2 separate regions of the Homo sapiens genome follow, and region 2 is linked to region 1. A link means that fine-mapping ties the variant in region 1 to the expression of a gene that starts in the linked region. Tissue or cell type: whole blood. Region 1 holds a variant in brackets; the other region holds the start of a gene. All regions are shown on one strand. Distances are between the middles of the regions.

Region 1 (7,757 bases):
AAAAAAAAAAAAGTCTAAAAAAACCTCTTTTACATTAAAAGAGGCTTAAGGAACATAGCACCTGGATTCTAAGATTTGAAGTGTCATCTGTGGTTGGATCCTAGTTTGGACAGAATGCATGTATAAGTAATTTTTGGTACAGTTGGAGAAATTTGAGTAGAAATTAGGAATTAAATCTTTTTGACTATGTAATTTACGAGAGTTAAGAATGTCTACAGTTATTTTAAAACACTTCAGCATAAAAAACTTGAAAGGGAAAAAAATCATTGACTAAAATCCATAGACTAACATGACTTGAACTGACTAAAATTAAAAAGAAATGTTGACTTGTTTCTAAAGCAATTACCGCTTTTCTAAAATCATTACAATGTTAAATTTAATTTTTTAGAATTATTGGTTAAAAAATTTTTAAAGAATAAAAAATAAAGTAAATGAAATTATTGGTTTAAGCTGTGTGCAGCGGCACAAGTCAGTAGTTTCAGCTACTTGGGAGGCTGAGGTGGAAGGACTGCTTGAGACAAGGAATTCAAGGCTGCAGTGTTCCATAATCATACCTGTGAAAAGCCACTACACTCTAGGCTGGGTAACATAGTGAAACCCTGTATCTAAAATAAATTAATTTTAAAAAGTAAAAGACAAGAACCAGGTAGCTACAGAGATCTAGATGGCAAAAACTATTAGATAGTCTTTTCAGAATGACACCTGGGATGAATCAGCTCCAGCCATTTTCCATCTCCATTTCACCCCCAAAAGGATTCGAATTACAGGCAACAAGGGTCTGGCTAGCCTAACTTGGGTAATATGACCACTTGGCTGGAGAAGTAGGGAATCTTGACTGACAGTTTTAGCATTAGAGTGTGCAGAAGAGGAAAGGCACTTCCCTAAAGAAAAAATCAAATTATGCTACCAGAAAAAGGAAAAATTAGATTCTAGAATAGGCAAAAAAAAAAAAAAAAATAGATTTCACAACTTCACATGTGTTTGGCATACACATACATCATTTCATTTACTCTTCATAATAACCCTATGTAGTAGGTATTAACATCTCGGAGAAAGGCTCAGAGAGGTTCTGTAACTTATCCAAGATCACAAAGCAACTTGGCAGCATAGCCAGCATTTGAACTCAGTTCAAAATCCTACTTTCAAAACCCATGCTTTTTCTGTTACACCATGTGTGTAGTAGGAAAAATAAACTAAACGAACTGTTTTCTCCTACTATACTCTTAACATAGAACACTTCTGTAACAAGATGTGTGGGGTTTTTTTCTCCTGTACACCAGGCAGTTCTCCAGTGGACACCAACTGGGTGTCATATAATTCAGTTCAATTCTGACACTATCTACATGAAGTTAGAATTAGATCCCACACCTTAAGGGCTCAGTCCCACCAGACTGCCCTGCTCCTCAGATGCCAGTTGCAAGTTTGGGCCTCCAGAACTTCTGGCTATAAATTGGGAGTTCCCATGACTCCCTCCTACTTAACTTGCTAGGGAGGCTCACAGAACTCAGGGAAACATTTTATTACATCTATCGGTTTATTACAAAGGATATTACAAAGGGTACAGATGGACAGACACATGAAGAGATACATAGGACAAGGTCTTGAAAGGTCCTGAGCACGGGTGTTTCTGTCCCTGTGGAGTTGGTATGTACCATCCTCCCAGCACATGGATGTGTTCCCCAACCCAAAAACTGTACCTTTGGTTTTGTTGTTGTTGTTGTTGTTGTTGTTTTGAGACGTAGTCTTGCTCTGTCGCCCAGGCTGCAGTGCAGTGGCATGATCTCGGCTCACTGCAACCTCCGCCTCCCGGGTTCAAGCAATTCTCCTGCCTCAGCCTCCCAAGTAGCTGGGACTGCAGGCATGCAACACCATGCTCAGCTAATTTTTGTATTTTTAGTAGGGATGGGATTCACTATGTTGGCCAGGATGGTCTCAATCTCCTAACCTCATGATCCGCCTGCCTCGGCCTCCCACAGTGCAGGGATTACAGGAGTGAGCCACCACACCCGGCCGGGATTTTTTTTCTTTTGAGATGGAGTCTTGCTCTTGTAGCACAAGCTGGAGTGCAATGGCGCGATCTCGGCTCACTGCAACCTCCGCCTCCCGGGTTCAAGTGATTCTCCTGCCTCAGCCTCCTGAGTAACTGGGATTACAGACACCTGCCACCACGCATGGCTAATTTTTTTTTTTTTTTTTGAGACGGAGTCTCGCTCTGTTGCCCAAGCTGGAGTGCAGTGGTGCAATCTTGGCTCACTGCAACCTCCACCTCTCGGGTTCAAGTGATTCTCCTGCCTCACCCTCCTGAGTAACTGGGACTACAGACTCACACCACCACACCCAGCTAATTTTATTTTTCTGTTTTTTGCTATTTTTAGTAGAGACAGGGTTTAGTAGCGATATGTTGTCCAGGCTAGTCTAGAACTCCTGACCTCAAGTGATCTGCCCACCTTGGCCTCCCAAAGTGTTGGGATTACAGGCGTGAGCCACTGTGCCTGGCCATGACTGATTATTAATGCCATTTCCAGCCCTCTCTCCTCTCCAGAAAATGGGAGGTAAGGGTAAAAGTTCCAAGCTTCAAATTATGACTTGGTCTTTCTGGTGGTTAGCCCCCATCCAGGAGCTCACAGAGTTGCTTCAGCACAAAATGTACTTCTATCAACTGAAATTACAAGAGACTTAGGAGCTCTGTATCAGAAGCTCCAATCTCTCAGAAAATTATACAGTTCTTAGAAGCTCTGTGTCAGACAGGAACCATGGTCAAAGACCAATTTGCATATTTCTTATTATTTTACACCATGCCATTAGGCAAGGCAGACAATTACATTTCTTCTATTCTTCAGTTTCCCAATCAGTAGAAAGAAGTAACAACTTGCTCTGGGTCTCCTGAGTAGCTTGGATCTCATAGCTAACTAACAGGTTTGCAGAGCAGCCAGAGCTCCCTTGGAAGTGACTTCCTATTTCCTTAATTTTTCTGACATTGATTAGAAGGGGAAAAAAAGGAAAAAAAATGAAATGCATAATATTAACGACTTTTAAAATACTTCTTTTGTTCCAAGCGTAGTATTTTATATGTCTCTGTGCATTGAATTCTCTTAATAGTTCTGTAAGGAACACAACATTATTAACCCCAATTTGCAACGAAGGAAACACGTTTAGAGAGTGGAAGTTATTACTCAGGATCACTGGCTTTCAACCCAAGTCGGTCTGACTCCAAAACTGGGTGCTCCAAACAACAGCACCCCACTACCCACTCTCCTGACCTTTTTGCCACTGAGGCCCAAAGATGCCTTCCCTTCTTGATGAGAGAAGGGGTAGTCTCAGTCTCCTCACCTACATAATAAAGGAGTCAGAATCACTTCTCCCCCAAGGCCCCTTTACCTCTGACTGCTGCTGCTACTGGCAAGGCCAAGAGCTGAGTTCTGTGCTGATCACAGAGAAGAGCAAGGCCTCACTGAATTCATGGACTTTATGTCCCAACGGGAGCTCTCAACTGAGGTACATGACTTACTCCGGCAAAGAAGGGGCACTCTGGATGTCTGCAGATAAGGAGGTGGGCTGCAGATCAGGCAGAGAAATTGCTGGGT[G/A]GAATCGATAATGATAGACAAGAAAAAGACATTGATAAGAAAAGCGAGCCACTTTTTGAGGCAACCTTTTTCTTTTTCTCCTCTGGCCCTCATCTTTAGCTCTCTTTTATTTGTCTCTCAGATTCTTCAGAGAGTTGAGGAGGGGTAGATGAAATTGAAGGGAAATTGCTGCTCAATGGCTAACAATAAAAGGATGCAGGACGGTCACGCCTGTAATCCCAACACTTTGGGAGGCTGAGGCGGGTGGATCACAAGGTCAGGAGATTGAGACCATCCCGGCTAACACAGTGAAACCCTGTCTCCACTAAAAATACAAAAATTAGCTGAGCGTGGTGCTGGGCGCCTGTAGTCCCAGCTACTTGGGAGGCTGAAGCAGGAGAATGGCGTGAACCCGGGATGTGGAGGTTACAGTGAGCCGATATCGCGCCACCGCACTCCAGCCTGGGCGACAGAGCGAGACTCCGTCTCAAAAAAAAAAAATAAAAATAAAAATAATTGGATACAATAACTTAAATCAACTTTCTCCTCTTCCCAAACAGCCTGTAATAAGTCTGTCTCATTCTAGACAGTAAATAGGAAACTGAAAAACCAATTTTTGCTTGTGGCTTTTCATTATAGAGAATAATTTTTGTTGCTGTTGTTGTTGTTGTTTTTGAGTCTCACTGTGTTGCCCAGGCTGGAGTGCAGTGGCATGATCTTGGCTCACTGCAACCTCTGACGCCTGGGTTCAAGAGATTCTCCAGCCTCAGCCTCCCATGTAGCTGTGATTACAGGCATGTGCCACCACACCCGGCTAATTTTTGTATTTCTTTTAGTACAGTTGAGGTTTTACCATGTTGGCCAGGCTGGTCTCAAACTCCTGACCTCAAGTGATCCGCCCACCTCAGCCTCCCAAAATGCTGGGATTACAGGCGTGATCCACTGCACCCAGCCAAGAATAAATTTTAACTGGATAAACATGCCCTCTTTACTAGAATTCTGCTATAATGTCATTAACCTGTATTTAAGCATAAGAAAAATACTCCCATGCTCACCCTGATGACTCAGCCTTGAACTCAAGTCAGGTCTGCTGAAGGGAGATAAAACTGCAAAAGTCTCCATGGTGAGCATGGGGGGCACTTTACTCCTTCAGCCACAGTAGGTTTCCGCCCAGATGCAGCTCTTGGAAATTGGCTGGTGACCACTGGTGGCTGATGTCAAATGGTCCTCTGTGATTGTCCGTCCCCAGAGTATCAGGGGCACAGCTGTGTGGGGAGGATTTCTGTCTAGAGCTCCATCTCCCAGTCCTACTCTCTGACAAAAGTGATCCCATAGCCAATTGGTAGGGGATGAGGAGTAGGAAAGCCTGGAGAAAAGGGGCTTTGGCAGAGCACCACATGGTTCTCTGGGCAGAGCAGGGACTCCTGCATCAAAGCAGGGCACAGATGGTCTTCCAAGTAATTAGAGAAATTAAATCCCTGGCATATTTTAATCCCTGTACAGCTAGACTGCTAAAAAAGGAAGGAAGGAAAAGGAAAGGAAAAAGAAAAGGAAAAGGAAAAAAAATTGACAATACTTGGTATTGGCTAGGATGTGGGGAAATGGGCACTCTCATTTACAAGGAAAATGTAAAAATGTAAATTAGAATTTTTTTTTTTGAGACGTTGTCTCAATCTGTCACCCAGCCTGAAGTACAGTGGCGCAACCTCGGCTCCTTGCAATCTCCGCCTCCTGGGTTCAAGCGATTCTCCTGCCTCAGCCTCTGGAGTAGCTGGGATTACAGACAGCCATCACCACACCCAGGTAATTTTTTTGTATTTTTAGTAGTGACGGGACGGGGCTTCACCATGTTATCCAGGCTGGTCTCAAACGCCTTACCTCAAGTGATCTGCCTGCCTTGGCCTCCCAAAATGCTGGGATTACAGGCATGAGCCACTATGCCCGGCCATAAATTAGTATCTTTAGAGGACAATATGGCAGTATCTTCTCCACTCCACTCCAAGTTTCAAAACAGAACCAGGCCAGGAACGGTGGCTCACACCTGTAATCCCAGCACTTTGGGAGGCCGAGGTGGGAGGATCACTTGAGGTCAGGAGTTCAAGACCAGCCTGGCCAACATGGTGAAACCTTATCTCTACTAAACAAAAAAACAAAAAAACAAAAAAATTAGCTGGGCATGGTGGTGTGCACCTAAAATTCCAGCTACTCAGGCGGTTGAGGCACAAGAATCACTTGAACCTGGGAGGTGGAGGTTGCAGTGAACCAAGATTGTGCCACTGCACTCTAGCCTGAGCGACAGAGTGAGACTCTGTCTCAAAAAAAAAAAAAAAAAAAAAAAGGAAACAAACAAACAAACAAAAAAACACGCCATGAAAAGGAAGAGAGGTCTTCCTAGATCATATATCCATTTGACAGATAAGGAAACCAAGGTTCAGATATATTCCCCAGATTTGTTCAGAGTCTCCCTGTTAGTATGTGCCAGAGACCCTAAATGTGGATGGACACGGTGGCTCACACCTGTAATCTCAGCACTTTGGGAGGCCCAGGCAGGAGAATTTCTTGAGCAGAGGAGTTCAAGACCAGCTTGGCAACATAGTAAGACTCCCATTTCTACAAAAAATACAAAAAAATTTTAGCTGGGCATGGTGGTGTGCACCTGTAGTCACAGCTACTGGGGAGGCTAAGCAGGACGATCCCTTGAGCCCAGGAGGTAGAAGCTGCAGTGAGCTGTGATGTGCCACCGCCCTCTAGCCTGGGCTATAGAGTGGAACCCTGTCAATGCCAACAAACTTAAACCCCAATTGATGCCTTTTTTTCTTTTCTTTTTTTTTTTTTTTTTTTTTTTTGAGATGGAGTCTCACTCTGTTGCCCAGCCTGGAGTGCAGTGGTGCGATATCAGCTCAATGCAAGCTCCGCCTCCTGGGTTCACGCCATTCTCCTGCCTCAGCCTCCTGAGTAGCTGGGACTACAGGCGCCCGCCACCACACCTGGATAAATTTTTTTTTTATTTTTGGTAGAGACAGGATTTCACCATGTTAGCCAGGATGGTCTTGATCTCCTGACCTTGTGATCTGCCCGCCTCGGCCTCCCAAAGTGCTGGGATTACAGGTGTGAGCCACCACGCCCGGCCTGCCTTTTTTTCTTACAGCAAAATAAAACACAAAGGAGGGACCTTCTTGCTAGAAGGGACCATCAATACTTTCTGGAATAAGATGAAACTTAATTACATTAATCAAATTCTGGGTAGGCATATCATCTGCCAAAATGTCATTTAGAGAGCTGACAAATAGTTTTTATATCCCCTGTGGATTAGTCAAAACGTATTTGGTTTCCAATGACAGAAGCTCTACTCAAACTGAAGGAGCTTCCCAGACAGTGTTATCAGGATTGGCTTCTATCTCTTGGGTCTATGTTTCTCAGTGTTGACTTCATTCTTAGACAGGCTCCCCTACCGAATGGCAAGCTGATACCAGCAGCTCCAGCCTTACATTCTTCTAGTATAGTAGCCCCAGCATTATGGAGCTTTGTTCCTAATAGTTCCAGCTTTGGAAAGAACTAGATTACATATCCAATCCTAGAGTAATGGCCAGGTCGTCCCCAGTCAAACCACATAGCCTGAAATTAAGAGTATAATCAGGATTCTCTATCAAAAGAAGGGTGCGCAGATACCAGGAAGGCCAAAACAATAGTTATCCATTCCACCCTGTAAGGGAATGTAAACAAGGAAGAAATTTTGATGGAAAAGGGAGCATAAAGCATTTGTGATCTCCACATTTAAGACTTCCTCAAAATATCCTTTTATGGAAAGATACAAAGCTTCCCAAGGACAACACAGCCCCTCTATTCCCTTCAAATACGATTGTACAAAGAAAGTAATACCCTTCTGCCTACTATGAGTGAATAGATGTGTCTGTCCACTGTCTGGCCAGCTGTCAACTGCCTCACTGTGCCCTGGAGAGAGTTTTTTTGTTTGGTTTTTTTTTTGAGATGGAGTCTCACTCTGTCGCCCAGGCTGGAGTGCAGTGGCGTGATCTCGGCTCACTGCAACCTCCACCTCCAGAGTTCAAGCAATTCTCCTGCCTCAGCTTCCCAAGTAGGTGGGATTAGAGGCATGCGCCATCACGTGTGGCTAATTTTTTTGTATTTTTAGTAGAGACAGGGTTTCACCGTATTTGCCAGGCTGGTCTTGAACTC
Region 2 (6,378 bases), 25 kb after region 1:
TTTGTCAAGGTGAAATAAAATATATAGATGAATCTCTAAAATTAAAATGTTTTGTGAAGCAGGAATTGTAATTCAGGGCACACGCAGACTGGGTGGTCTTTGCCATGTCTGCAGAACAAAGAGAAGGTTGGAAGTTTTGTAAAAAGGAAGTGTTATGTATTGCTCTTCAAGAAAGTTCACTGGCACTAGTAAGGTTTTGGAGAGCTGGCAAGTTTTGATTGGTAAGTGAAGGCAATAAGTAAAACTATTTCTGAGAGTCACAGTAGGTTGTTTTAACAGCTATTAGATAAAACTGCTTTCAGATTATAGCACGCAGTTTCAGCAGTGAGGCTCACTAAGAATGCCATTCTTGGAGTAGTTACATGCCCTGAGTACTTTTTCCCCCAGCCACTCTACTACTTTATTATTGTTATCATTATTATTTTATTATTTTATTTTTTACACAGGGTCTTGCTCTGTCACCCTGGCTGGAGTCCAGTGGCATGATCTCAGCTCACTGCAACCCAGCTACTCAGGAGGCTGGTCTCGAACTCCTGACCTCAGGTGATTGGCCCAACTCGGCCTCCCAGTGTGCTGGGATTACAGGCGTGAGCCACCGCACCTGGCCTGCAGTCTTTTAAAGGCAATTGTCAATTAAATTTCCAAAATGGACTTTCATTCTGTTATTTGAATAGAAATGGTGAGCTCTTGGCCAGCCGTGGTGGCTCATGCCTGTAATCCTAGCACTTTGGGAGGCCGAAGTGGGCGGATCACCTGAGGTCAGGATTTTGAGACCAGCCTGGCCAACATGGCGAAACCCCATCTCTACTGAAAATACAAAAATTAGTGGGCAACCATCCTGGCTAACATGGTGAAACCCCGTCTCTACTAAAAATACAAAAATTAGTGGGCAACCATCCTGGCTAACATGGTGAAACCCCGTCTCTACTAAAAATACAAAAAATTAGCCAGGCGTGGTGGCGGGCGCCTGTAGTCTCAGCTATTCGGGAAGCTGAGCCAGGAGAATGGCGTGAACCCAGGAGGCGGAGCCTGCAGTGAGCCGAGATCGCACCACTGCACTCCATCCTGGGCGACAGAGCGAGACTCCGTCTCAAAAAAGAAAAAAAAAAATTAGCTGGGCAACGTGGCGAGCACCTGTAATCTGAGCTACTCAGGAGGCTGAGGTAGGAGAATCACTTGAACCCAGGAGGCAGAGGTTGCAGTGAGCCGAGATCGTGCCACTGCACTCCAGCCTAGGCTACAGAGTGAGACTCCATCTCAAAAAAAAAAAAAGAAAAGAAATCGCGAGCTCTGCTATAAGGTACATTTGGGGATGGTTCCTAGGTTGTGAAGATGAAGTAAAGGAACTTTGAGAAAGAGACTGCAGCAGTGCCCAGTGTGCCCCTCTTGGCACTGACAGCCCAATCTGAGCCTAGAGATTCTCAAAGGATTCCAGACTCTTGCCCAGGGGCTCTTGGGTCATCCAGAGCATTGCGGGGCAAGACAGAATTAGAACAGACTCAAAAAAGAAAGCTGACCCACTCCTGACCCACTCACTATGTGCATATCTCTAAAGGGACAGGCCTGACCAAATAAGATGGAGCTGCCTTTCGCAAGACATTAGGGGTTAGTGGTAGTGCCGACTTGGGATGGCAGGAGACCCTGCTTCAATCTGGTCTTTGATTCGGCTTGGAAAACAAATCCAAATCTCCTTGTTGACAGAACTTGAGATGGTCCAACAGAGCTCCTTGGAGGTATGAGGCCTGAGGCCTGAAGCCTGAAGTGACCAGCAGGTAACTGGGCACCACAGCCTGAGGCCAATCAGCCCCAAGCAAGAGCATCCTGCTTCCTCAGAGGGTTTGTTTGCTTGAGGAAAGCGAAGGCTGGCAGTCATATTCCTTCAGGATCTTCCAAAAATGTTGGCAAGGGTGATCCTGATGAAGCCCCCTTGTTTGGAGGCCAATGCCAGCTCTAACTGGACTGGCAAGCCAAAAATGACCACTCTCTTTCCTGTAGTTCAGAATTCCCGACCTGCCCTAATGGAGACGCAACCTGAATCCAAGAGTGAGGCAGGCAGCTACAGATAAGTTTACAGCGTGATGACTACTTCATAAAGCACAAAAGACCATGTGGTTTAGATGGCAGGTCATGGAAATCTAAAGGGAATGGTGAAGTTGCACCGTAAGGGGAAGGTGACTGAGGAGCTGAAACTGACTGAGGGGCTGAAGCATTTCGGACAGGAGAAAGGATCAGGAGGAGACAGAGCGGAGAATGGAGCCTCAGGGCTACCCAGCGGTGGGAAGAGGGTAGCCAGAGACTCGTAGGGCGGCCTGGGTTGGTTGTGCTGGGCAGGTTCTCAGTGGTGGGAAAGTCTGGCCACACTGCCCTGACTTCCTGACTGGACTTCACCTCGAGGGTGGGAGCGGTTCCTGCCCCCCACCCCCCCACCCCCCTGTCCAGCCCTTGGAGCCAGGGCACGGTTTGTGACAGATTCAGGGAAACGTTTGGTGCCAGATGGGAGGTAACCGGGTTAAGGCCTGCACTAGGGAGGATTCCTTCCCCCAGCAGCACTGGTGGTCCTCACTTCCGGGTGCCTGCGGATAGGCGGGCTGGGGTCGGAGGTCGGCGGCCAGAAGCCAGATTCCCTTGGCCCCAGCTCGTCCACTTCCATCCAGCAGTAGCCAAACAACCGTTGAAAATGGCCTGGCGGCGGCCGGGAAACACCAGAGAACTATCTTCCAACCCCTAGATCCCGCCCATCTCGTTCCGGCGGTGTTTCCGTGGCGACGCTATCCGAAGTGCGGCTGCGCAAGGGTGACGGCGCGCGAGCAAGGGGGAGGGGGTGTTTTGGTTCTAGCCGCTCGCCGTCCTTGCAGGCTCTGCCGTCGGAAAGCCGCTCATTCTCGCTTCCCCTTCCCTTTCCCGGCTCAAGTCCTTCCTCTCTCTTTCCTTTCTTTCCGCCTATCTTTTTTCTGCTGCCGCTCCGGGTCCGGGCCATTTTCCGGGCCGGGCGCACTAAGGTGCGCGGCCCCGGGGCCCAGTATATGACCCGCCGTCCTGCTATCCTTCGCTTCCCCCGCCCCATGTGGCTGCGGGGCCGCGGCGGCGCTGCCCACTATGGCCCGGAAAGTAGTTAGCAGGAAGCGGAAAGCGCCCGCCTCGCCGGGAGCTGGGAGCGACGCTCAGGGCCCGCAGGTGAGGGTTGAGAGGCCGGCACCTGGGTGGTGAGGCTGAGGAACCAAGATGGGCTTAGGGTCCGCAGATCCTGCGACGGGAATCGGGGTCCAGGGTCTGCAGTCAGAGGCAAAACAGGAATGGGTTCAGGGCCTATAGGGTCAGGACTGGACCCTCGTTAACTGGAGGGCAGATAGGCCAGGGCGGTGAGGAGCCAAAGGGGAACTCAGGAATGGGACATAATCCGCGGGAGGCCTGCATTCGTGGATAGGGCTTGAAAAGAAACCAGAATCTTGGCTTTGGAGGAAGGGGAAACCGAAGTTAAGGGAATCGGAAACAAACTCTGGTAGAGTGAACTCTACCTTCCATGGGCCCTAGGAAGCTGGGATGATTGCGTCCCTCCTGGAAGAAGGAAGTAGTCTCCCTATATGTATACCCAACCCTGAGCTGGGCCTTTCGGCGTTTGGACCCCAAAAGAAACAACAGTTCCCAGGTATCATCTCTATGCCGCCCCCTTTGGAGGGGAAGGCCTTCTTGGACATAGATATGGCCTCTGATTTCCCGGGGGCCTACTACCCCGTTGGCGGTTGATTTTTCGAATTCTGCAACTGCCTGGAGCGCGGGCATGATGACAGAGGAACGGTCATTGATGATGCATCCCTGGAAGACCTGGGAGCCAGGTCTGGCTCCTTGGACTGTATCTTCCGTGCTCCAGTGGGAGTACAGACTGAGAGGGAGAAGGGGGCTGGGTAGAGATGCAGCCCATGTCGGTATGGGAATCACTCTACCTCTCATTTCCTTCAATCTTTCACTCCTAAAATGTCTAGTAAACCTTTTAGTCTGTTCTATTCTGCATTCATTCCCTTGACTTTCAGCCCTTGTAATTCACATTGGTAAGTTTGACTGTGAGCAACATCTTTTTAATGTTGGAAGAGTTAAACGACTTTCTGGATTGAGATTCTTGTTCTCTTGTGTTTGTATTTGTGTTGTTTGTAAATTCTGCAGTATGAGTTATGAGTTGGTGATTTCTGTAATACAGTAGGATCTGTTCTGAAGAAGAGTAGCCAAAGCCCTGATTTCTAATGTTGTTTCCACAGTTTGGCTGGGATCACTCGCTTCACAAAAGGAAAAGACTTCCTCCTGTGAAGAGATCCTTAGTATACTACTTGAAGAACCGGGAAGTCAGGCTACAGAATGAAACCAGCTACTCTCGAGTGTTGCATGGTTATGCAGCACAGCAACTTCCCAGTCTCCTGAAGGAGAGAGAGTTTCACCTTGGGACCCTTAATAAAGTGTTTGCATCTCAGTGGTTGAATCATAGGCAAGTGGTGTGTGGCACAAAATGCAACACGGTAAGTGCCTGGGGGGATGTGACCTCTCTCCTAGGTCGTGGATATATTGCTCCACTTGCTCTAGAACCTCTGCTAGTTTTCCCGTCTGTTTCTTTTAGGAGGGACTTGCCTTACTCTCCTTTCCATTCTTTCCCGTTGGTGACTTCTTCCTCTTTTCGTGTTCCTTTTTTCACTCATACATTTCTTTTCTGATAAGTCCTCAAAGGAGTGTATTTCTTCAGGCCCTCTCTGGATGTGCTGCTTCTAGAGGGTTGTTTGTTTGTTTGTTTGTTTTTGCCTCATATTTTTATGCTGGTTTTTAAGTCATAGGCCTCAAAGGAAAGATTTAAGAAATAATGATGCTTAGAGCATCATTCAGGATACATAATAGTGAAAACAGCCTAAGAACGTATGTCGAAGTATTTAAAATAGCACACTTGGCTGTTTTTTAGTGAACAGAATCTAAAAATGTATAAACTGAAATATGAGAAATACATGAACTGTTTCCTATAAGGAAGGCAGGGAATGTGTGTCTGGTAGTATATTTCAGGGTATAAGCATTAGCTCTTTGGAAAGTAGCCTTTTTAAGAGTGAATAGAAAGACAGTTATAAATGAATGAAGTGAAAAATTTCTCAGTAAGCTTTGTAACCAACCCAATTATAGGCCAGGATAAAATAAGTCAAAGAGCAGAAACGTTTGGAATAGAGTCCACGAATAGCATGATGTCACAAGACTGGCAAATGAAAAGAGGCAGGGCCTAGGGCCTAGGGGTGGGAAATGATTACGCCCAGCCCTCCCTCGGTTTTCACCTCCCCTGTGTGAATGGACAAGTAATGTCATAATGTGTGAGTAAATTGACCCTGGAATGAAACACATTTTGGATCATTAAAAGAGAGAAGATTGCTCTAGATCAAGAAAGTCTTAAGTACTAGGAGAAGTGTCTGTTTATAAAGGACATAGGCAAAAATTTAAACAGTTTTAAGGAAGGAAATAATACCATGGTGGTTGGTCTGTTTATAAAGGACATAGGCAAAAATTTAAACAGTTTTGAGGAAGGAAATAATACCATGGTGGTTGGGGCCAACCTTTCGTTTCCTCTTCTGTTGAGGAGTCGCTTGTCTTACCCAGAAGCCTTTCAAAACTAAGTGGTGGCAACGGGCCTCCACAGAACTTCCTTTTCTTGGTCTCTCCAGCTGCCCACTCGTGGTTAAGAACTGTCATCCTTGTCACTTGGAGTAGAAAAAGAGTCTCCTGCTTGGAAGAGTTCATTCCACTCCCCGCACGTGCATCATAGTGTTTAGCCTAGCAAATATTACTGAATTGTAAACTGAATTAATCATCATAGCCTCTTGCTTGTTGAATTTATTGACACTATTTTGAAGGCGAGCATAATAAGTAATAATTTAACCTACTCTTAATTCCTACCTCTTTCTGTCTTCCTAATCCTCATAACCTAGTGTTTGGGGCAAGGGGAGCTGTTTTCATTTTATAGTTAGTATTTGTTTGTTTTTGCTTAGCTTCCAGAACCAAAGCAGGGAACTAGGAATAGTGCTCTTCTCTGAACTTTGTGACATTGGGCAAATGATTCCCTTATTTGTGCTTTTGTTTTTGCATCTGCAAAATGGGAGTGATAATATCTGGTGCTAAGGTGTCTGCATGCATCTGGGAAATATTCTGAGTGAGCAATATCTTACTTATTTAAAAGTACTAGTAGCGGTAAAAATGATTTCCATAACCTTTTCCCACAATTTGAAGAGAGGAAAATTATTTAAAAATTGGAATTGTCTTTGGATAATGTGTGAAGATTTCAGAGGTGGGAGAGATTATGTTGTATTCTCAATAGGAAAGTTTTGATGTAGAATGTCCCTGTGCTGTGGGCTAACAATCAAACTA

Evidence for each region. PIP is the estimated chance that this variant, and not a neighbour inherited with it, causes the effect.
Region 2: it holds the start of DCAF12, and the variant in region 1 is fine-mapped to the expression of DCAF12 in whole blood (TOPMed, PIP above 0.99).

The regions. Positions count from the first base shown.
Region 1 is chr9:34,147,293-34,155,049 of GRCh38, reverse strand. No RefSeq gene overlaps it. Among named protein-coding and RNA genes, the nearest start is that of DCAF12, 24 kb to the right of the region's middle. The variant G/A (reference allele first, on the strand shown) is at 3,585.
Region 2 is chr9:34,123,150-34,129,527 of GRCh38, reverse strand. DCAF12 (DDB1 and CUL4 associated factor 12) reads left to right here and starts at 2,830. Exons shown (of 9, transcript NM_015397.4): 1 at 2,830-3,174; 2 at 4,251-4,505. The coding sequence starts at 3,097. RefSeq lists a silencer at 3,096-3,145 and an enhancer at 2,580-3,281.